3 linked regions of the Homo sapiens genome follow. The protein of the gene in region 2 interacts with the protein of the main gene of each other region in a pairwise test. Each region holds a gene or a part of one and is shown on either strand. Other genes may lie near its edges.

Region 1 (7,597 bases), on a different chromosome or scaffold from region 2:
GGCCTGCACCACCATCCCTGGCTGATTTTTATATTTTTTGGTAGGGATGGGGTTTCACCATGTTGGCCAGGCTGGTCGCAAACTCCTGAGCTCAACTGACCTACCAGCCACGGCCTCCCAAAATGCTGGGATGACAGGCGTGAGCCGTGGCGCCCAGCCTACATTTTATTTATTTATTTATTTATTTATTTATTTATTTATTTATTTATTGAGTCAGAGACTTGCTCTGTCTCCCAGGCTGAAGTGCAATGGCGCGATTGCAGCTCACTGCAACCTCCATCTCCTGGGTTCAAGTGATTCTCCTCCCTCAGTCTCCCAAGTAGCCGGGATTACAGGCACCCGGCACCATGCCCAGTTAATTTTTCTATTTTTGTAGAGACAGGGTTTCACCATGTTGGCCGGGCTGGTCTTGAACTTCTGACCTCAGATGATTGGCCCACCTCAGCCTCCCAAAGTGCTGGGATTACAGGCATGAGCCACCACGCCTGGACTTTTTTTTTTTTTTTTTTTTTAATGGAAATGAGGTCTCATTATGTTGTCCAGGCTGGTCTTGAACTCCTGGGCTCAAGTGGTCCTCTCACCTCAGCCTCCCAAAGTGCTGCGATTACAGGTATGAGACACAGCCCCAGCCCTATTTGTATTATTTATTTTGAGACAAAATAAATATATCTTAGGATGAACTCTGTCACCCAGGCTGGAGGGTAGCGTCGCAATCATGGCTCACGGCAGCCTCCACCTCCCGGGTTCAAGCGATCGTCCCACCTCAGCCTCTGGAGTAGCTGGGACTCTAGGCACATGCCACTACACCTGGCTAATTTTTGTACTTTTTGTAGAGACGAGGTTTTACCATGTGCCTAGGCCAGTCTCAAACCCCTGAGTTCAAGCGATCCACCAGCCTTGGCCTCCCAAAGTTCTGGGATTACAGGCGTGAGCCACTGCACCTGGCCCAGACTTCTGTCTTAACTACTTTCCCTTTTCTTTCCCTCAGTGAGCTCTGGCTCCAAAGAGTCTCTAGGTATTGAAGAGCTCTTCACATGCATGCACCCCTGCCCACCCCCAGGAAACATGCCTGTGCAGTTTTCCATTTTAAGTACTTACACAAGCTCCCTAGCTCTGGGGAAAGAAGTAAGGGAAATTAACCACTTATTGAGACCTGAGTCTGTGCCAGTCTCCATTATATTTTCTTCCTCAAATATACCTCACTGACTCATGGGTCCTGTGGTCCTGGACCTGTGCAGGTAACATGGCAGGGTATTGTCTCAGATTATGAAGTGAAAAGGGTAGAAGGTGTTGAATCTTTTCTCTCTTTCTCCTTACCCTTCTTAATCTTCCCTCTCCCACTCCCCATCACCCGCCTTCCCACCACTTAATTTCTCTTGTTTGTTCACCCTAAGATATATATTTCTGGGACTCTTGGTTTAGGGATGCTCTTAAGAAGTCCCACACTAGGGAGATGCAAACATGTCCTACCTCCAGTGAGTTCCATGATCAGCTTGCTGGATTTCCTCTTCTTATTAGGGGCCGGGGTTCCTGAGAGCGGCATTGTGGAGGTGGATTCAGCCTGGACAGGGTGGGAAGGAGGAGTTGGTGGATGGACAGGGACTGGGAAGAGTGAGTGTCTGTAGGAGAGCAGCACTTCTTAACCTGGGTTTAAGGGCTTGAGGGGACAAAAAAATTTTTTTTTCTTTTTTAGAGACAGGATCTCACTCTGTCGCCCAGGCTGGAGTGCAATGGCACAATCATGCCTCACTGCAGCCTCAACCTCCCTGGGCTCAGGTGATCCTCCAACTTCAGCCTCCCAAGTAGCTGGGACTATAGGTGCGCACCACCGTGCCTGGCTAATTTTTGTATTTTTTGTAGAAATGTGGTTTTGCCATGTTGCCCAGGCTGGTCTCAAACTCCTGGGCTCAAGCAGTCCTCCTGCCTCCCAAAGTGCTGAGATTACAGGGGTGAGCCACTTCACCTGACCCAGATTTTCAAAGAAGCATGTATTTCCCCAAAAGGTGAAAACTTGCGCTTTAGGGCTTCTCTTTTCTTGGGATACAGGACAGGAAGTATAGATGCACACCAGCCCCTGTTGTCTACCAACCTGTTGTGAGCTGTTTTTCATAGAGTCAGTGCAGGAATTAGGAACATAGCTAGGTGTGGGGAGTGTTTAAAAAACAATAACACAAGCAGGGCAATGCACCCAGGTTTCATTGGCTTGGCATGATTTGAAGTTTTTATTTGCACTGGGATATCAGACTGGGGCTGTGATTCCAGGCTCTGGTCTCTCCTCAGTCTTCCCCCAGTCCCCAGGAGGACAGAGAAATATTCTGCCAGGGTTGAGGAGATTCAGCCAAAAACACTCTCCATAGGAAGGAGAGGTTGTTGCTCCTTCATCAGGCCAGCTGGAACATGGCCTGGGAAGTCATGGCCCTGCTCCTGCAATCACTCCCGCCACAGACCCCAGAGTGGAGGCAGGTGTGGAACTGGGAAGGGTAGGGAGCATTCAAATCCCGACACGTCAATTCAGCAATATCATAGCAGTGGGGAATTGAGGTGGGGCAGAAACATAGTAATAGGATCTGGCAATGGAAAGGGACAAACTGGGATAAGATGGACTCCAATCCCTTCTTAAGAGAAGTTGGCACTCAGTGAAATGCTGTCCTCTTCTAAGTCCTGTCTCAAAAAATACATCTGCAACTCTACTGACTTAGTGGGGTCTCCCTTCCCATTCTTCCAGTGCCTCCCCCGACATCTCCATTCCCCCCAACCTCCTGGGCCCCTCTCCTTCCAACTCTCCTTCCCCTCTCCTTCCAACTGGACAGCTGGGAGCTGAGCATAGATGAGGAGAGGGGAGACTCCCCCAGGATCAAGAATCACAATTGTAGACACAGACACAGAAGTCAACACAGTGGGCTCCAGCCTTTCTAACGATAGAGCTGGAGACTTACCGGCTGCTCGGGCAGTGGTCAGCTCTCCCTGGGGTCCAGCAGCTTTGGAGGACTGAGCTGCTGTGACCGGAGAACACGAGCTGGGCAGGCGTGGGGGCAGCACTGGCAGTGGGGGAGGGAAGTTGGTTATTAATAGAGATGATGAGCGCAAGCAGCTCAAATGGCACAGGGGGTACTGAGACCCTGGAACCAAGATCCCTCCCTCCTTGCCCGGAGGCTCAGGAAGGAGGGAAAAGGCCTTTGGGATTCTCCCACTGAACTGTCTGAGCCAGGGATCAGTCTGCCCAGGGACTCCCCTTCACATTGCACCTAGAGCCTGAGATCCAAAGAAGCACTTAGGGAGAAACTGAAGACTGAGAGGGAGACAGGAAGTAGACAGCAAGTATTGGATAGGAATTCAGTCAGAGAGAGAGAGTCTGGGGAACATGCCCTGAGGGCCACACAGAGCCAATCCAGGGCAGAGTGGAGAGACCTGTGGGTGTATTTGGAGCAGGGAGGGCTTAAAGTGCTATATTTGGGGACAAAAAGGGAAGTCTTCACAGTGGAACTGCTCTTTTAAAGTTCCTGGATAGGTTGGTCTTTTCTCGGTAAGGGCTAGATCTTGGCAGGTTAAGGGACCAAATTAACTAAACCCAGTACCTCCTACAAAGGAATGATGTGGGGAAGACTTGACAATTATTCTGTCTGCCTCACTCCCTATTCTTTCCTCTTGAGCTCTGGCAGTTTTAATAAAAGACAAACACTTGGATCTGCATTTTTTTTTTTTTTTTTTTGAGATGGAGTTTCGCTCTTTTTGCCCAGGCTGGAGTGCAGTGGTGCGATCTCGGCTCACTGCAACCTCCACCTCCTGGGTTCAAGCAATTCTCCTGCCTCAGCCTACTGAGTAGCTGGGATTACAGGTGTCCACCACCATGCCCGGCTAATTGTTGTATTTTTAGTAGAGACGGGGTTTCACCACGTTGGCCAGGCTGGTCTCAAACTCCTGACCTCAGGTGATCCACCCACATTGGCCTCGCAAAATGTTGGAATTACAGGCGTGAGCCACCGCCAGGATCTGGTCTCTAAGGAGTTATTCTCTAGCCACCACGCCCAGCCAGGATCTGCCTTTTAACCTCCATTTGCTGTTGAGATGCTCAGTTCAACCTGCTGTGCGGGATAGACATCGATGTCTCCCTGAGAAGCACATATAGGCTCTCTGAGGTTTCTTTTCTTCTTCTTTTTTTTTTTTTTTTTTGAGACGGAGTCTCGCTCTGTTGCCCAGGCTGGAGTGCAGTGGCGCAATCTCGGCTCACTGCAAGCTCCACCTCCCAGGTTCACGCCATTCTCCTGCCTCAGCCTCCCGAGTAGCTGGGACTACAGGCGCCCACCAACACGCCCGGCTAAATTTTTTTTTGTATTTTTAGTAGAGATGGGGTTTCACCGTGTTAGCCAGGATAGTCTCGATCTCCTGACCTCGTGATCCATCCATCTCAGCCTCCCGAAGTGCTGGGATTACAGGCTCTCTGAGGTTTCTACTTGAGATTTCCTGCAAAGGGAGCACATACCACATAGGATCTGGACTGTGCCATTTGTACTGTTCCAGCGGAGTCTCTGGGCAGGGCCACAGGCTTGAAAGCCCCTTTGGGGAAAGCCTATCATTTCCCCAGGCCCTTCTTCAGTAGCTGCATGATCTTCCTCCACCTTCTGCTTAGATTCTGGAACCAGTTGCTGCAGCACTTCTGCTGCAGCCACCACAACCCTGTTGCTGCTACCTGAGGAAGTGGCTTTATTTATTTATTTATTTATTTGAGACAGGGTCTCACTCTGTTGCCTGTGCTGAAGTGCAGTGGCACAATTTTGGCTCACTGCAACCTCAGCCTCCCCAGGCTCAGGTAATCCTTCGACCTCAGCCTCCCAGGTAGCTAGGGCTGCTGGTACATGCCACCACGCCCAGCTAATTTTCATATGTTTTGTAGAGACAGGGTTTCACTATGTTTCCCAGGCTGGTCTCAAACACCTGGGCTCAAGCAATCCTCCTGTCTTAGCCTCCCAAAGTGCTAGGATTATAGGCGTGAGCCACTGTGCCTAGCTGGCTTTTTAAAAAATTATTTCTTTCTTTATTTTAGAGATGGGGGTCTCACTATGTTGCCCAGGCTGGACTTGAACACCTGGGCACAAGTGATCCTCCTACCTCAGCCTCTGAGTAGCTGGGACTACAGGCACGCACCAGGAAGTGGCTTTTGTAACTTCCTTTGTCCCCTTCTGAGCTCTTTACTCTTCCTGACCATGTCCTTTTTCCATCCTGTGGAGACCCTAAAAGGTATCCCCTCACAGTTGGCTTCTGCCCAGGCTAGTTATGCCTCCAGACCCCTCATCTTTTGTCCTCCTCCATCCCCTCCCAACCCAAGGAAGCAATTAGAAGATAAAATAGGCCGGGCGTGGTGGCTCATGCCTGTAATCACAGCACTTTGGGAGGCCGAGGTGGGTGGATCACTTGAGGTCAGGAGTTCAAGACCAGCCTGGCCAACATGGTGAAACCCAGTCTCTACTAAAAATACAAAAACTAGTCAGGCATGGCGGTGCGTGCCTGTAATCCCAGCTACTTGGGAGGCTGAGGCAGGAGAATCACTTGAACCCAGGAGGCAGAGGTTGCAGTGAGCTGAGATCGCACCACTGCACTCCAGCCTGAGCCACAGAGGGAGACTCCATCTCAAAAAAAAAGAAGAACTATAAATAGCTAAAGGTGACTTCATCATCACTACCACCCTCACCCTCAAAAACAAAAACAAACTGAAAGTTTGATCTCCTTCAACTGAGTACCCAAAACGACTGAGTGGGTGAAGACAGGCTATTTAACCTATGGTCTCTGAGATCTTTTTTTGGAATTCTAAGACAGTGCACTTGGAAGAGTCTGCGGCCTGGGTCTGATTATTGGCACAAATGTGCCCTCTGCTGGCAGAATCAGAGCAATGGCACTTTCCTTCTCTGAAGTCTAATTCTCACCTACCTCCAACGCCCTCCCTTCTTTAGTAGTCTCAATTCAGCTTTATTCTTCCCTCTCCCATCCCACCTTCCCCTCCAGCCCTCCAGCCATTGCTTTCTCTTCATTTACTTCCCAGAGACTGTTTAATATGGTTGCTTCCTCTAAGGAGCGAGGAAATGTTGATAGCAAAGGGCTCAGAGGGCCTTTCCAACTTCTCTGAGTTCTGTGAACTGAAGCCTTACCTAGAAAGTATGAGGCAAGGGAGGGAAAGGGGAGAACTTGGATGAAGACTGTGGGGAGAGGGAACCAAGAAGAGTGATGGAGGTGGCTAAATCAAAGCAGGACAGAATTTGTATAAAAGAGCAAAAGACCTGGGAACAAAGGGCAAAAGGATGAAAAATGGGAGGGCAGGAAAAGAGACAGATCAGAAATCAGATCAGGGGAATGGGTTAAAGAAGATTAAGGAGAGATCAGGATTTAGGAATAAAACTAGAAGATAACAGCAACAGAAGGTATGGGGCATAAATTTATTCTTGTGCACAAACCAAAGTATTGTGACTCACACCCAACAAGCAAAGGAAATTATCACTTTCCAGATTACACAGCAAACGTAGCTGGTGGTGGTCTTGGTGAGAAGGGAGTCCATACTAAGATTGGAGATCAGGACCTGAAGCTGAAAAGAAGCAATAGCTGGGGTTTTGAGGGATGGGGTGGGACTGAAAGGAGGTTTTGGCTCTGGGTATTTCCCTACTCTTTCCCAGGCAGTCATGGCAAGCTGCAGAAGACACACTGAAGAACAGACTCAAGGAAAATCACACAGACACCAACCGTTCTTTCAACACTCAGCACACACCCTCACACCTCCCTTCCACCATCATTCCCTTCCATTCTAACATTCTTCTCCCTCAAATTTTTTTCCAATCCCCCTCTCACACACGGTTGGTTTCTTGTTACTCAACTTTACCTTCTCCCAATATGGCATTGTCCCTCGCCACACTTCTGTCTGTGGCTCAATCACTTACACTCATTTCTGCCATGCTTCTGATTTTGGCCTCACTTGCCACACTCTGGCTCTCTTCTCCTTTCTCTCAAGCTCATGAGGCAATGAAGCCAATGATTTGTTCATTCTCGGAGGGAATTTTCTTTCTTTTTTTCATTTCCTGGGTACTGGGTTGCTCAGCACTGGCCTCTCAAGTTGCTAACTTTTTGAAATCCTGAGGTATAGAATTCTTTGTTCTATTCCTGGTCTAGCTGGTATAACTCAGCCCATGCAAACTGTCCTGGCCCTTCAGTCTTTTCATGCTCCATAACTTTCACAAGATGCTGTACACCTGCTACAGACATTGGTCTCTAAGGAGTTATTCTCTAGTGAATCTCTTTCTCCCACTCAACTCCATGTGGGGATATCTGACCCTTCTATCAGTACAACGATAAGACTCAGATTGGGTCTTTTGTTTGTTTGTTTGTTTTGAGACAGAGTCTCGCTCCGTCGCCCAGGCTGGAGTGCAGTGGCGCAATCTCAGCTCACTGCAAGCTCCGCCTTCCAGGTTCATGCCATTCTCCTGCCTCAGCCTCCCGAGTAGCTGGGACTACAGGCGCTCGCCACCACGCCCAGCTAATTTTTTGTATTTTTAGTGGAAATGGGGTTTCACCGTGTTAGCCAGGATGGTCTCGATCTCCTGACCTCGTGATCCGCCCG
Region 2 (7,340 bases):
CAGATGGACTCAGAGATACCAAGACACCTTTGGAAGTCTAGTGCCGTTCATCAGAGATACTAAGATGGCACGACCTCCCCGGCCTGCAGCTGGTTCTCATCAGAGGCCTCATTTGGACTCTGAGCACTCTCAGCTCAGCATCTCCTGATGTTGTGGGTGGTTCAAGAGACAAGAGAAACAGATGTAGATTGGTCAGAATCTGGCTGGGGAGGTGGGAATGACATTGTGGTGCTCACAGTTTTATCGAGGAATATTTGCACCACAGCAGACCTCTGCAGGATGATGGAAGATGCCGGACTTGCTGTCAGAAGCTGGCTGGGCATCCCCCCACACAGGGAGATCTCCTGGCAAGTTGTAGAACTGGCTGACCCTCGGCTTCTCAGCTGTCTATGGAGGATCATAGCATCTGCCACGTAGGGCTGTTTTCCTGAGGTTTAAATAGGATGAGGCTTGTGAAATGGGATGTGAAATAAGAGACTGACGTGGAGGAGAAGTGCAAACAGGGAGGTGAGGTGTGCTTGAGGTTTTAAAGCAGCGGAATGTTACACAGTATTTCTGGCCTGTTCCCCGGGTCCTTTCCTGACCCCACCCTGGCTGTGAGCAAGGCAGGGCTCCTCTGTCCTGGGCAATCGGTGATCCTTGGAGCAGCGGGGAGTTCTGTCCACTGCAGAATGCCTGGCTGTCTTTTCAGGTTGTTTTAATTCCTCCTTGCTACTCTCAGCCCTCCTGCAGGCTTACAGTTCCCTCCCATTAGCTAAACAAAGGATCTCAGAGCAGTTACTTGCACCTTAGTGTGAATGATTTTGTTCACTTGTTCCGTCTCCCTGGATATTTGCATTTTCAATATAATGAGGTTGCGTTTTATGCCAGGGACAAGTTCTAGGAGACCCTGCATCATTCAAAACTAACATATTTTAAGACTAATTTTCCTGTAGGAATTAATGTAGAGTGTGTGGGGGGGGGGGTGGTATATTCTGAGAGCACATAAATCCATAACCAGTGAAGTGTATCTTTGCCTTAATGCTACTTTTTATTTTCTCAGCATTATCTTGAATACCTTGCAGAACGCTCTCTCCTAAATTAACAGCCCAGGGTATCATGGGCTCCCTTGGCCTTCCTCATAGCGTTTTGTCACATTTAACTTCCGTACCAAAGTTATTGATTTTTGGGTACATTTTTCAGCACGAGCACTGCCACTGCTACTTAATGAATACTTGGATGACATTGTTATGGGATATAAAAAAGATTTTAAATTATAATAACAGTGAATGTTAAAATAACAGCATATTAGTCCCCATCATTGCAAGAAGAAAATCCTGTGTGTGTAGCAGTGCCGAACCAGCGGGCCACCAACCAGGATGACGGGTCTATCCCAGTGGCGCTACCATCTGGCTGTGGTGAAAAGAATTTATAATTCCGTAGGCCAAGCTATTTTGAAATTAAGTGATTCTCGAGAAATTAAAACATTTTTGGTGATTGCATTATTTCACATTTTTTAATATAAAGATTGTACACAAGTGCACTATTTCCCATTTGCATAATTCAAAGTTGCATCAGACACTCCCGTGTAGACTATAAATATGCACAGAAGGGACAGACTCCTCAGAATGAAAAGGAAGGCATTTTGGAGGTTCCCCTTTGTCTTTTGGAATGACTCTCTAAGTAGTGTAGTCTCTGTGGCAGGGGCTCCGGAATCCCTACCCTTCGGGTTCAGGGCTTCAGGGAGGGAGTTGGGCCACAGTAGTTCCGGGATGACAGTGGCCACGTGAGAGAAGAAAACAGCCCGAGGAGAAGGGAAGGCACGGGTGTGTCCCCCCTCACTGTGTACACACATGTCCTGGCTGCACAGCTGCTTCATTCCTCTAGTGCCTCCCAAGATCAGGGCAGGCCGTGTTGCCCTCTGGACTTCCAAGGGGGAAGTGAGTTACTGGCCCAAGTCACTCACTCATCAAGAACACTGAAGCCAGGTCTGCTGACTCCAGGGAGAGCCTTGTAGATTGTGAGGACCGAATGCATATAAAGTCCTTAGTCAACACCAGCACATGGTAGGTGCTAACACATGTTGGCTACTATTGTTTCTAAGAGAGGGTTTTCTTGAATGGAAAGAAAGGAGAAAAGACAGAGAGGAAGTCAGGAATGTCACAGAGACACCTTCTGGGGCACACAGGTGAGCAAGCACAGAGAGCAGAGCTGCCCAGGCCAGCTGCTGACTTTATTCCGTGTGTCCTCCAGGGGCACTGTGGAGAAAAGGGCAGTATGCCTAAGTGCTGGGAGAGGAAACAAACCTTTACATTCACCTGTGCTTCCGAACACACGCACGCGCCTCTCTCTGTACCTGACTTTGAATGGAACAAACCAGACTTTAACTAACAGGAACTTGAGCTTGTTCACTCAAAATCTGTCTAGGACTTTGTGTTGATCAGTCAGTGTGTTGCCCAGAACATTCCTTAGACTAGTTTTCTCAAAAAATTTTGACTACAATCCACAGTAAAACTCATTTTACATTTCATCTCAGTACACATATTTATACAATAAAAACTAAAGTTTAATGAAATGATCTTGCCATTCCATCCCATTCTCTTCATCTGATTTCCTGTTTTAGTTTTGATCCACTAAGGTGACTTTACAGCCCACGAGTGGGTTCTGACCTATAGTTTAGAAACCTGCTTAGACACTGTTGGGTGTGCAAGCTCACCCCTGGCTGTGAGCCCAGCGACGCCAGGGCAAAGGTGACATGGCTGTGGGGAAATGGGAGACTCCTGATGAGACAGAGGGGAGGGCATCTGGGGCGACTTTGAACATGACTTCAACCTGGCTGTTCACCTTCACAGCTCTGGCAAGAACTCATGAGGATGTGTGAGCAGAGTGTTTGTCATGACAGGGACGTGTGGAATTGGGTACATTCAATCTGATGAGACTTCTGTGCAGCTGGGCTGGCAGGGGAGGGTTGAGGCAGGGAGCTGAGCAGAGAAAGGACTGCTGTCCTCACTTTTCAGTGGCTTGGGAAGGCCCGTGGTGCAGGAGTCAGTGCCATGAGAGTGGGGACCTCTCCACTCTGATGTCCCCTGTGCCTCGCGCTGTCCTGCCTACAGCAGGCAGGCTTAGGTGCAGAAAGGATGGAAGGGAGGGTGTGGGAGGAGGCGCAGCTGCTGCAGATAGGCCGAAGCCAGTAAGCAGTGGTTTTTCCTTGCAGATGACTCAGAGGCTGGAGCTAAGCGGCCCCGGACCACCATCACAGCCAAGCAGCTGGAGACATTAAAGAATGCATACAAGAACTCCCCCAAGCCTGCCCGGCACGTGAGGGAGCAGCTGTCCTCAGAGACAGGCCTGGACATGAGGGTCGTACAGGTGAGATGCCAGCACTCCTGTGCCCTCCGGGGATCCCAGGCCCGGGACAGGGGTGGAAGGTATCCTGAGTGACATCAGCTCACGGGTGGTTGGGCTCAGGGCTTGACCCCAGGGCTTTTGCCAGAACTGAAGACAGAGTTCTGAGGCCCACCTGGGGAGAGGGGGTGGGGCGCATCGCACTCCCAGACCTGTGCTCCATTCAGGCTTCAGTCTGCTTCCAGCCGCCCGCCTAGGGGGTCCTGGGGGCTTTGGGTTTGTGGTGGACGCCCCCTGAGTATGTCCCTTGTGCTTGTGTGGCAGGTTTGGTTTCAGAACAGAAGGGCCAAAGAGAAACGCCTGAAGAAGGATGCAGGGCGGCACCGCTGGGGGCAGTTCTATAAGAGCGTCAAGAGGAGCCGGGGCAGCAGCAAGCAGGAGAAGGAGAGCTCTGCAGAGGACTGTGGGGTTAGTGACAGTGAGCTGAGCTTCCGAGGTGAGCAGGGCTGGAGGGGCCAGGCCGAGGCCTTAGGAAAGTCCCCTGGGAATCTGTAATCCCTGGCACTCAGGAGGGATCTTTCTTGAGGCCTTGGCAACTCCCTCCTGAACACAGGCTTTTCCTTAAGACTTGCAGTGAAGGGTGGGGGAAATGGTAGTGGCCCTTTACCATGGGACAGGAGTAGGAAACAAGATTGCTGAGGTCTGGAAGCTGGGATGGGCCAGGCCCCGTCCTGTGGCCCCAAGGTCTCCCCTCCCCTCCTGCTGACTGGGGCCTCCCTCATCAGCCCACACAGCTATGAACAGATGACTGGGTTCCAGCCTTGTGCCCCTAGCCCCTCTCCCATCTTTGTCCCCTTTGCTGGGACACTGGCCTACTCCCATAGTCCCCTAGAGCCACCCCTTCCTCCAGTCCTGGTGGTGGGGAGGTCATGCTCCACAGGTTTTTTCCTGGGAAATCAGTACTGTGAGTGCATGTGAGATGGGGAACTGGCTTCACTTCCGAAATCCCTTTCCCCACCACTCACTTCATTCTGTCCCCTGCACACAAGCTTTGCAGCATGCACTATATTCAAATTCATGCATCAGCAAAATTGTAAATTACTGCATGTTATGAATCCTCAGGTTGTTTGCAAAGAATCATAACTGTTCTCAGGTACTGAGTTCTCAAATGTGGAAGGTCTTCTGCGGAGGGGGAAAGGGAAGAGTACTCAACTGGCGATCAGAGACCTGGTTTCCAGTGCAGCTCTGTCAAATCGATTCACTTCTCTTGAGCCCCAGTATTCCCAAGAGGAATACCATATCTTTGCCCATCTCACTGCGTTGTGGGGATCAATGAACACAACCAACTGTGGATGTGCTTGGGGAAAGCCTGGCACATTTGTATACCTGGAAGGCATGATCGTTCCCACAGGGAGCGTGTGGCTCCCGCAGAGGGCCCTGGTCATTTGGGATGACAGGTATAGGGAAAAGGCTAACTCATGGCCATTTGACAATGGAGTGGAGCCTTCATCTTCCTGCTCCCTTTAAAGAGCATGAGCTCCCCCCACCATGTTTTTTCATAAGGGGAATGGGGGGCAGGCCTCAGAAGGGATGGGGTGTTGAAGTCTAGTCTGGGGAGGCCTTATTTAGGGATTGGTGCAGAGGCCCAGGTGGAAATAGAAAAGGAAGTTTGTGGGACAGAGGATGGAACAAGTTGCCTGCCAGGACAACGATGCCCTGGGAGGACTCTAGTTCAGCCCAGAGGTCAGCTGAGCCCTAGAGGGCAGCCTCCTCTGAGAACACAGGGCCCGTGAGGCCTTGGGGACAGCTCATGGGACTAATACTCACCTTTTAGGCTTCTTGGCAGGATTGGGAAAGTCAATCTCATCTGGGCTGTTGAAGTCAACACCTAGAACATACTGGATTGTTAAGCTCATTTCTGTTGGGTGCAGGTGGGTCCCTGGGCTGACCTATCATTGGTTTCTCTGGGAATAATTTCTCAAAGACTAAAACTGCTCACCTCTGTTGGAGAGAGAAATTCTTTCAAGTGGCAAAGATTCCATTAGATCCCCTTAATGAAATTCTTTAAGAAAAAAGAAGGTTCATTTGCCTTAATCAAGTCAATTCTTTGTCCCCAGTGAAGAGCTTATTGAATACAGACAGAAACCAAGTCCTTTGATATTGAACCTCTCTTCCAGATAGACCAGAAGGATTTTGTACAGATGTCTAAGAGTGGTCCTCAGCTTCCCTGACCATATGGGCCTGCTTGCTTCCCAATCAACTAAACCAAGCCCTTTCTCAGCTTGAAAGCTTTCAGGGTAAATGTTGTCAGCATGTAGTTTCCATTTGTGATGTGGAGACATCTGACCCACCCAGCCTTAGGCATTCATCCTCCTCAGTGTAGCCAGAGTATTAGTACACGAGCCACAAGGGACCAACGAGCTCACCAAACATTTGTCCATCCTTCTGGGACCTGGGAATTTAGTCTTTGCAGGTGTTTCTTGTTTTTCTCCTTGGCCTGGGTTGGCCTCTGGATATCAGGCTGCCATATTGGTGTGTCTGACCCATGCTTGGCTGCAAGGCAGCTGCCATCCTTGGGCATCTTTCCTGGTCATGTGTGTTCCTAGGTTGTGAAGAGCAGGGGACCATCAGAGTCCTGGCAGCTGACAATAAATCTCCGTTCTTTTGTCCACAGAGGATCAAATTCTCTCAGAACTTGGCCACACCAATAGGATTTATGGCAACGTGGGGGACGTTACAGGCGGACAGTTAATGAATGGGAGCTTCTCCATGGACGGGACAGGACAATCCTATCAGGACTTGAGGGATGGGAGCCCCTATGGAATCCCCCAGTCTCCATCCTCCATATCGTCCCTGCCATCCCACGCTCCTTTGCTCAATGGGCTGGATTACACGGTGGACAGTAATTTGGGCATCATTGCGCATGCAGGGCAGGGAGTAAGCCAGACGCTGAGAGCCATGGCTGGGGGACCCACCTCTGACATCTCCACAGGAAGCAGTGTAGGCTATCCCGACTTTCCAACTAGCCCAGGCTCTTGGCTCGATGAAATGGATCATCCTCCTTTTTAAACTTCTCTCCTCCCCACCCTACCTGCCCCCCTGGCTTGAGAGAATATCTTCAAGGATCAAAAGAGACTTGCCTTTTAAGGATCGAAAGTACGCCAATGTGAATTTCCATTATTTTCAATGGAAGTCCTCCGCTGATTCCTAGAAGGCTGTGAGACCACACTAGGGCATTGTTTCCCTGGGGAAGCAGTGGGAGAGCAGACTCATCTCAGAACACAGCACAGGGGGTAATGGCCTAGAGCTCTAGGGACACTGGCTTGTTGGGTCTCTCCCCTGCTGTTCTGCTTAGGGGCTTGGCTGCTCAGTGCTTTGGTAGCACAAGGTGACTGTGATAGGCCCCCTTGGCCTTTGGGAACTTTGCTCCAACTGGTGTGTCTCACACAATGCCTCCCAAAACACTGCTCTCACCAGAACTGAGACTCCTAAGGTAGAGGCCTCACAGCCCTTGAGTAAAATAAAAGTGATTTCTGGACCATCCTTATTGAACCCTATATTTCAAAATGAAAAGATCAGTTATTAAAGGTCAGTGAACACTTTGATGGCCAGTTTGATATTAAAAACATGCCCCCTCCTTTTTTATTTTTGCTGTGAAGATATGAATTCTTTCCTACAAACCAGAGAATATGAACCTGTTTTGGTTTTTAAGTGTCCCATCTATATCATTGACTCTGATGGCAAGAGGTGGTTTTCATTGCAGGTGACTGAGGCTGAGCTGAGTAGCCCTGGACCACCGCTGCAGATTGCCTGAGTCGTCCCCTTGGTGCACAGTGTGCCTTCTTCAATTGCTTGTATCATTTATTCCACAAGACAGGCTGTGGGCTGTAAAATGAGCAAAACTAAAATGTGGGGAGAACAAAATGACAATCAATCAGTGAACATTTGTAGACACATTTGGATTCCAAACCTGCAGTCTGTTCAGCCATATCGGCTGATGCCAGTCTTCCAGAGTT
Region 3 (7,268 bases), on a different chromosome or scaffold from region 2:
CCTGATGAACTGTCTGAGAGAAAAAAAATATATGATGAAGAAACTGCTGAACTCTCACAGTAAGTTTCTTCTCATAAAAAAAATTATGAACTACTACCCTTTAATAGTAAGGAAAAACCTCACCGCAAGCTGGATCCTGTCTTTAGTTCATCTCAGTCTAGTCAAGAAGTATTGGTCTGTTTCCGTGGTCCTCAACAGACAGAATCTTATAAAAGTTCACTTGGTAACATCCGGATGTTTTATAGGGAGTTATTGACTCAGCTCTGTGGGCTGAAGCAGTATTTTGGGCGGGGGAGGAATTTCCTACAGTGCCATCAGGCAGTGGAATGGGAAATAGAGAGGGGGCGCTGGTGACAGTGACATTGGTGGTGATGGCGGCTCTCATGTGTCGTGGTAGGGCAAGAGGAAGGTTGAGGGTCAGTAGCCTAGATTAGCAGGGGATTTTCTGTCACATGGAGGCCCGGAAGGGGGCTTTCCAAACTTTGAGATCTGAGATTGAAATTGGAAGAGGGGTGTTCAGGGCCAAATCCTCAATTAATGAAGATACTGACTGGGAGCACAACTGAGTTGGTGTCGGGAGGGTGAAAATCTCGGAGGCAACTTTGGGATTCGGTAAGGCAGGCCACTCTGCAAAGAACACAGCAGCTGATGGAGCTGGGTAGGCAGGGCCAGGCATTGCTTGTTGTCCCTTTTCTGTTTTTCTTTCCCGTTTTTCTCCCTTTCTTTTCCCTAAATGTCTTTCCCTCTTGTGCAGTCACTTGGGTCTCTTTAAATTTTATTAACGGGTTTTTAATTTCTTTATTTCTTTTACTCTCTTTTAATTGAACACACTAAAAAACAAAATTATAATTTGTATATGCTGTTTTATTTAACAACTTTTTGTTTCCATTGATTTTCAAAATATAAATTGAACATTTTGTATGTCACTTTCTAAGAAAAGCTGTGCTTGTAGACTCCTTTATCAACATGTGCCCATCAGATGTCTTCAGTGAGCCAGGTGCCTTCCACAGAAGAAAGATTTCCACTCTTTATAGAAATAGATATTGATTTGTCTTCTCACAGAATTGATATTTTATTGTGTGGTTTATAAAATGATATGACAATTATGAACCTTTCTGATCAGTGCTGAAGCATCTAGATTTAAGAAAACTGCATTTCTGCTTTTGAAAATTTAAACATGGTGACACAACCAGCCAGCCCACGGAAGAGTGGTAGACTCAAAGGACAGAGGAGGGAGACACACAGAGAGCTGCGCATTGGAGAGAAGAGAAGCGACAGGGTGTCCAGCTGCTTACTAATGGGGCTGTTTCTTAAAACACATATTTTAAACATGTTTCACCTTATGTTTATATAAGTAATTGATGGTCATTTTGAAAAAAACTCAAAAATACAAATGAGCTTTTAAAAAAAGCCATAATCTGCAACTCAAAGGGAATCAACTATTGGCATTTTGGCATACATATTTCCAAACTTGAATGTAGTATGTATAAATAGGCTTTAAACAAAGATGGGATCATGTTATTCATGATCAGTATCTAAAACCTGCTCCTCTCATTAATATAAGCATTTCTTCTAATTCAGTTCATACACATCATCTTTTAATGGAAACATAGTATTCCGTTTTATGGATGTACCATAATTGATCTTACTAGTCTCCTCTTTATGATTCTACAATTTGGTTACTATCCACATTGCTACAGTGAACATTCATATAGCACTTGCCTGCTTATGTCTGAAAATAAGCTGGTTGGTTCCAAGAACATGAACATTTCCTGCCAACAACGTAAGGTTTCTGCTGTCTGTAGCCATGTTCTTTAGCGTGCCTGTGCTGTTTCAGAGTGCCCCCATGCTGCCATTTTTCCCATACCTCAGACAGAACTGGGCATTGCCTTTATCCTTCTCTTTCTTTCTACCAATCTGGCAATGAAAAATGTTATATCATTTTAATTACTTGGAAAAAATGTTATCTCATCAAAATATGTTTTCTTATCCTTGCGTTTGAAAATAATGGCTGAGAATTTTTAAGTATTTGCTCTTTGTTGTGGGAGTTCACTTTTTCTTGTTATCTAAGAGTAACTATGAGTGTTTGGGATAAAAGGTATTTATTGTCATGTTATAAATATTTAAAACAGATTTTAATATAAAATATTACTTATAATAAATTCTCTTGATTCATAAACATACTTAGCTCTGTAAGATAATCTGGTGTCTTAAAATTCAGTTTACTCTTATAAATAAGAGGATCACAGCAGATTTTCAGTATTAATATTTCATCAGTGTGAGCTTAGTGAACGGGGTGCTGATTCTTGTTCTTGCCAAGAATAAAAACCACCTTATTTAGAACTAATTCTTTTTTTGCTTTACATTAGTTCATTACTGTTATAAACCTCACTCATTTTTTGTATGTGTTCGGTAATATTTTTCTTGTATGAATTCTAATAATTAAACTGTTTTTCCCTTAGCTTGACCAAGAATGTTCCAATATTTGTTTGCACTATGGCCTACCCCACTGTGCCTTGCCCTCTCCATGTATTTGAGCCAAGATACAGATTGATGATTCGAAGAAGTATACAGACTGGAACCAAACAGTTTGGCATGTGTGTCAGTGATACACAAAATAGGTATGCTTTTTGTGAACCTAAATATTTGTATTTATGTTAGACCTCTCAATATGGATGAGAACTTGCATGTTTATGTTTCAACTTTGTTACTAATCAAGGTTTTCTTTTAGTTTTGCAGATTATGGTTGTATGTTACAAATTAGAAACGTGCATTTCTTACCGGACGGAAGGTCTGTGGTTGATACAGTTGGAGGAAAGCGGTTTAGGGTTTTAAAAAGAGGAATGAAAGATGGATATTGCACTGCCGACATTGAATATCTGGAAGATGTTAAGGTATTTTAAAATGTGCTTTGCCAGCATACTTTCGTATATCCTGTTCCAGGGATTGGTACAGGCATGCAGGCTATTTTCTAGGTGCATGAACCAGTTCTTATCAGACAGCCTTACCACTGTGATGAGAATGTGCTCCAAGTTACCTTTTTCGTATCTTGCTCTGAAACTGTTGCACATTCTAAGAGAACTTGGAAGACTAGAACATAGATTCTCTTTATTTCTGCAGGCTTAACAACCAGCCCAGTGCCTAGAATGTATGTGTATATGTACACATGTGCATGTGTGTATACACGTGATAGGTACTTAACAATAGTGGTTGAATAAGTTGAACTTCCAACCCATCTAAGTTTTGAAAGGTTTACATTTCTGCCCTGTTTTATTGAATGTATTAGTAGTTGAAGCCGATGGAATTAGTAGATTGAAATTTGATGTAAATGTAAACACATCAAATCTTATAAGAATTGTTTTATATATTAAGATTGTTCTTGTGCCTAAGATAACCTTAATGATAAAATAGAGTTGAATGCTGTGTGAAGACCCTGGGGCAGACATAGAAAGCACTGCCAGTGTACATGTTGGTGATATCTTAACAGGGTAGGGTTTTTGTGATGTCTTTCTAGAATAGGGTTAATGTGGCCCTTTTGATGTTTGCAATACCCAGTTTACCTACTGCAGTTAGTTTAGGAACCGGAAAAGTGACTTATGATGCTACAAATACCAAATTGAAGGCAATTTCTTTTGGAAAGGCATTATAAAAACATAGATCTTATCCCTTCTCTTATTCATTGATCTGTTTAGGCCCTTCATTTCGTCAGCATTTATTGGATATTGGCATTAGGTATTTTCACAAACATTAACTCATAGAATTTTCACAACTCTATGAAATAGTAGATGAGGAAAGTACAATTCAGAGGTGTTAATTAATTTGCCTGAGAGCCTATAGATAATGTAACAAAAATGATTAAAGCAAACTGTCTGACTCAGACTTTGAGCTTTATCACTATGCCATTTGGCTCTCTGTTGATAAACCTGATTAGTCTGACGTTGGCAGTCCTATCTTATTATAAAAATGCTATGGGGGTACTTTGTCTTGTGCAGTTGGCCGAAAGTATTGTGTGAGTTGAAATTTTGAGTTGATTGATAGAATCTGTGCCTTAGGCATACTTGGTTAATGGAATCACTTGCTAAAGGTTCTTCTTTGTAAAGTTAATAACCATATTTCAGTTTTGTGTAAATTTATGTCTTCACTTATTGGATTTGATGACAAAATCACTTGAGTATATGGCTAAATTACATGACTATATGTATTAATACTTACAAACATGTAGGCAATAGAATCACATTCTAAAAGTATTACAGATATGATATTTATAAACGAGTCCTCTTTGGTCCTCGGAATGTCTAGTAATCTTTTCTCATCATGTCTTCATCTATATAATGATTTTCTTGTCCATTCTGGAAAACCTTCTCAAATTTGTTTTATATGGCAAATTTTCCTCTTCTTATAATAATTCTGTTTTCTGTGACTTCTAATGAAATTTTAAGTTCTGTTAAAATTATCACAGTAAAGTTCCTTGACTTTAAAAGCTTGCTTTTAAAATGGAGCTGGCCAAAAAGCAGGCAGAGACTTTAAAAGCGTCTCTGCCTGCTTTTTGGCCAGCTCCGTTTTTCATCACTGACGCTTATAATTGTTATCATTCCTTGTTTACCAGAGCCTGTCATTTGTTTTCTTGAATTTTGTGAGGGTGCAGAGCAGATGCTTTAAAAAAAAAAAAAAAAAAGATTTAACAAGGCATAAGTTTGTTTCTTGCTCCTATCAATGTATGTTAGCAGGGGCCTGAATCATGTATAGTCATTTCAGGACCAAAATTCTTCAATTGTGTGGCTCCTCTACCTTTTTTAAAAGTTTATTTTTATTGTGGTAAAATATACATAGAATTTACCATTTTAACCATCTTTGAGTGCACACAGTGGCATTAAGTACATTCACATTGTTATGCAAAAAACAGATGCTCTTTAAACTTTAGTTTTCATTTCAAATCTTTCAAAAGTAAAAAGTTTGCTTTTTTGTCTCTGGTGTGCTGTAGTCTTATTTTTATATTTCGAAATGTTTTCAGAGTCCCTTTGTTGTTTTTAAATGAGTCATCCTTGAAGTATGAAAGGCTGAGTCAGGCCTGGTATTTTTTCAGATGAGTTTGTGCATATGAGACAGAGCACGACCTGGCAAGTAGCAAGTGGGATGTAAGTGTGCATTAAAGAAATCAGTATAAGATGGATGAGTTAAACTTAGATCTTCCCACCTGTGTTCTCTGAGACTACTCTTCTATCTCAGGCTGGAAGCCTGATGCAATTAATTTTACATTTGCAGTTTGGTGACCCAGTAGTCTAAAGAATACACTGAGGGGTTCCAGAGGTAGCCATAGCCTTGGGCCTTGCCAGCAGAAGCTCATCATTGTGTAATTGACTCTCTGACATACTGGCTTTATATGCTAACTTATTTGTTGTAGCTTTTTGTTTGTTTTTGTGTTTTGACCCAGTTCCCTAGTAAAAGATGTAACTGTGCCTGGACTCCTCCTGTTACTACTTTCTGTCATGTCATCTACACCCTAACTACTTATCTTTTCTTTTTTTGTAGCAACTATCATCCACTTTTTTGTTCCACTGCTTTCAAAAACCATTGATCCATAAAGACAAATGGAATTCCAAATTAGACCTCTGAACCAGAACTCACTCTCAATCTTACTCTTCCCACTTGAGGGCTGTTGTAGGGTTCTGCAATATTGCACTGCTAAGTCAGCAAGGTTAGGCATAGGTCAGGCCTTGTTGTCTTTCTTTAGTCTGGTCAGCCCTATATGAGACAGAAATGTGTATTAAAGCATAGGAATAATACTCTCTGGGACGTCAGCACTGAAACAGGTATTGCCCTGTTCTTCTGATCCCTTTTTCCATTTGTGTCGGTTGGCATATGGCATATGGACGGGGGATTAGACACAGAAGTCTTACTGACTATTGTATTTCTAGGTTGAGAATGAAGATGAGATTAAGAATCTCAGAGAGCTTCATGATTTGGTTTACTCTCAAGCCTGCAGCTGGTTTCAGAATTTAAGAGACAGATTTCGAAGCCAAATTCTTCAGCATTTCGGATCAATGCCCGAGAGGGAGGAAAACCTTCAGGTATGGTGGCTTTTCTGTTCTTCCAAAAGTCACTTTTTTATAAACCCAAATTTGCACACTTCTACATTTGTTTTCTCATTGTCCTTTCTGCACTACTTTTTCTTTGACTGTCCCCTCCCCCGCACCAGCCCCACCTCATCTTTGCAATCATGAGTTCTCTAGAGCAGTGGTCTCCACTACATTCCGTACAGATAGAGGCTGGAAATACGTGTCAGCTGAGATGCCTGTAGGAGAGAGTGCCAGAAAGGGAGCAAGTCCTTAAGAGGATTTTTAGGAGTGGGTAAGGAATTAAAAACGGGATGTTACTATCTAGAAACTGTGACTGTGGGACAACTAACCATGCCTTTGAGCCCATCGCCTGTTGCTGTTATTCTTTGACAGCAGAGAGACTTACCATTTTCTATACATTTGAAACATCTTTTCTCACCTTTCTTTGTATCTCCCAACATTTGACCCAACCACTTCAATTCATTTTTGTCTCTTCATGTTTAATACCTCGCTTCTCATGAAACTATTATTCTTTTAGTCTTGCAGGTACTTAGGGTTTACACTTAAGCTTAGTCTAATGAATGTGTATCTGGCACTTTCTGTGCAAGCAAAACTGCAGGAGGCATAAAAGAAGGGTCTGGCTCCTGGAAAATCTGATCATAGACTTACTAAAGCACTACGTTTTAGGCATCGTAGCATTTTGAATTGAACTAAATGTTTTTGATCAGAAGGTGATAGATTTTACAAAGGAATGGCTGTCAGTAAATATGTGAAGATGGAGAGATAATAGATCTCATTGTAATGCACACTGCCTCATTCCCGTTTTCAAGGGTTGGTCTACATTTGTCTGAATCCCAATTGAATCCTTCACCTGAACTTGAAACACCAACATTAGGCCATCTCCAAATTTAGTATTCATTCTGTTTAGCATATTATCAGTTGCCATCTATTTGTTTTAACTGATTACTTGAATCTGATTAAACATCACAGAAATGGGCTTTGATAAGAACAATATTGAATAAGAAATTTTAAATAACAAAACAGCTTATAGAAAAATTCAGCATAACTTTTCCATCACCTTCACCACCCTTGCCTTTTATTATCCTGTCCTGTATCACTGCTTTCTGTTAGCAGTGTTGTGTGAGTTAGGATTTGGGCAGGAAAGCAAAAGCAACCACCCGTCATTTTCCCAGAATGAAGGGTTTGACGTAG

What was found.
Region 1: the proteins of LHX4 (region 2) and MYOZ1 interact in binary tests that used the Homo sapiens proteins (3 or more experiments, as listed by UniProt).
Region 3: the proteins of LHX4 (region 2) and LONRF1 interact in binary tests that used the Homo sapiens proteins (3 or more experiments, as listed by UniProt).

The regions. Positions count from the first base shown.
Region 1 is NC_000010.11:73,638,475-73,646,071, forward strand, and holds the start of MYOZ1 (myozenin-1), read right to left. Parts: upstream 3,001-7,597; 5' UTR 2,937-3,000; intron 1,562-2,936; 5' UTR 1,544-1,561; coding exon 1,471-1,543; intron 1-1,470. UniProt on the Homo sapiens protein: Myozenins may serve as intracellular binding proteins involved in linking Z-disk proteins such as alpha-actinin, gamma-filamin, TCAP/telethonin, LDB3/ZASP and localizing calcineurin signaling to the sarcomere.
Region 2 is NC_000001.11:180,268,187-180,275,526, forward strand, and holds part of LHX4 (LIM/homeobox protein Lhx4), read left to right. Parts: intron 1-1,466; exon of another isoform or gene 1,467-3,193; coding exon 3,194-3,348; exon of another isoform or gene 3,349-3,648; coding exon 3,649-3,820; exon of another isoform or gene 3,821-5,998; coding exon 5,999-6,393; 3' UTR 6,394-7,340. UniProt on the Homo sapiens protein: May play a critical role in the development of respiratory control mechanisms and in the normal growth and maturation of the lung. Binds preferentially to methylated DNA.
Region 3 is NC_000008.11:12,724,527-12,731,794, reverse strand, and holds part of LONRF1 (LON peptidase N-terminal domain and RING finger protein 1), read left to right. Parts: coding exon 1-59; intron 60-2,462; coding exon 2,463-2,621; intron 2,622-2,731; coding exon 2,732-2,894; intron 2,895-4,490; exon of another isoform or gene 4,491-4,563; intron 4,564-5,915; coding exon 5,916-6,068; intron 6,069-7,268.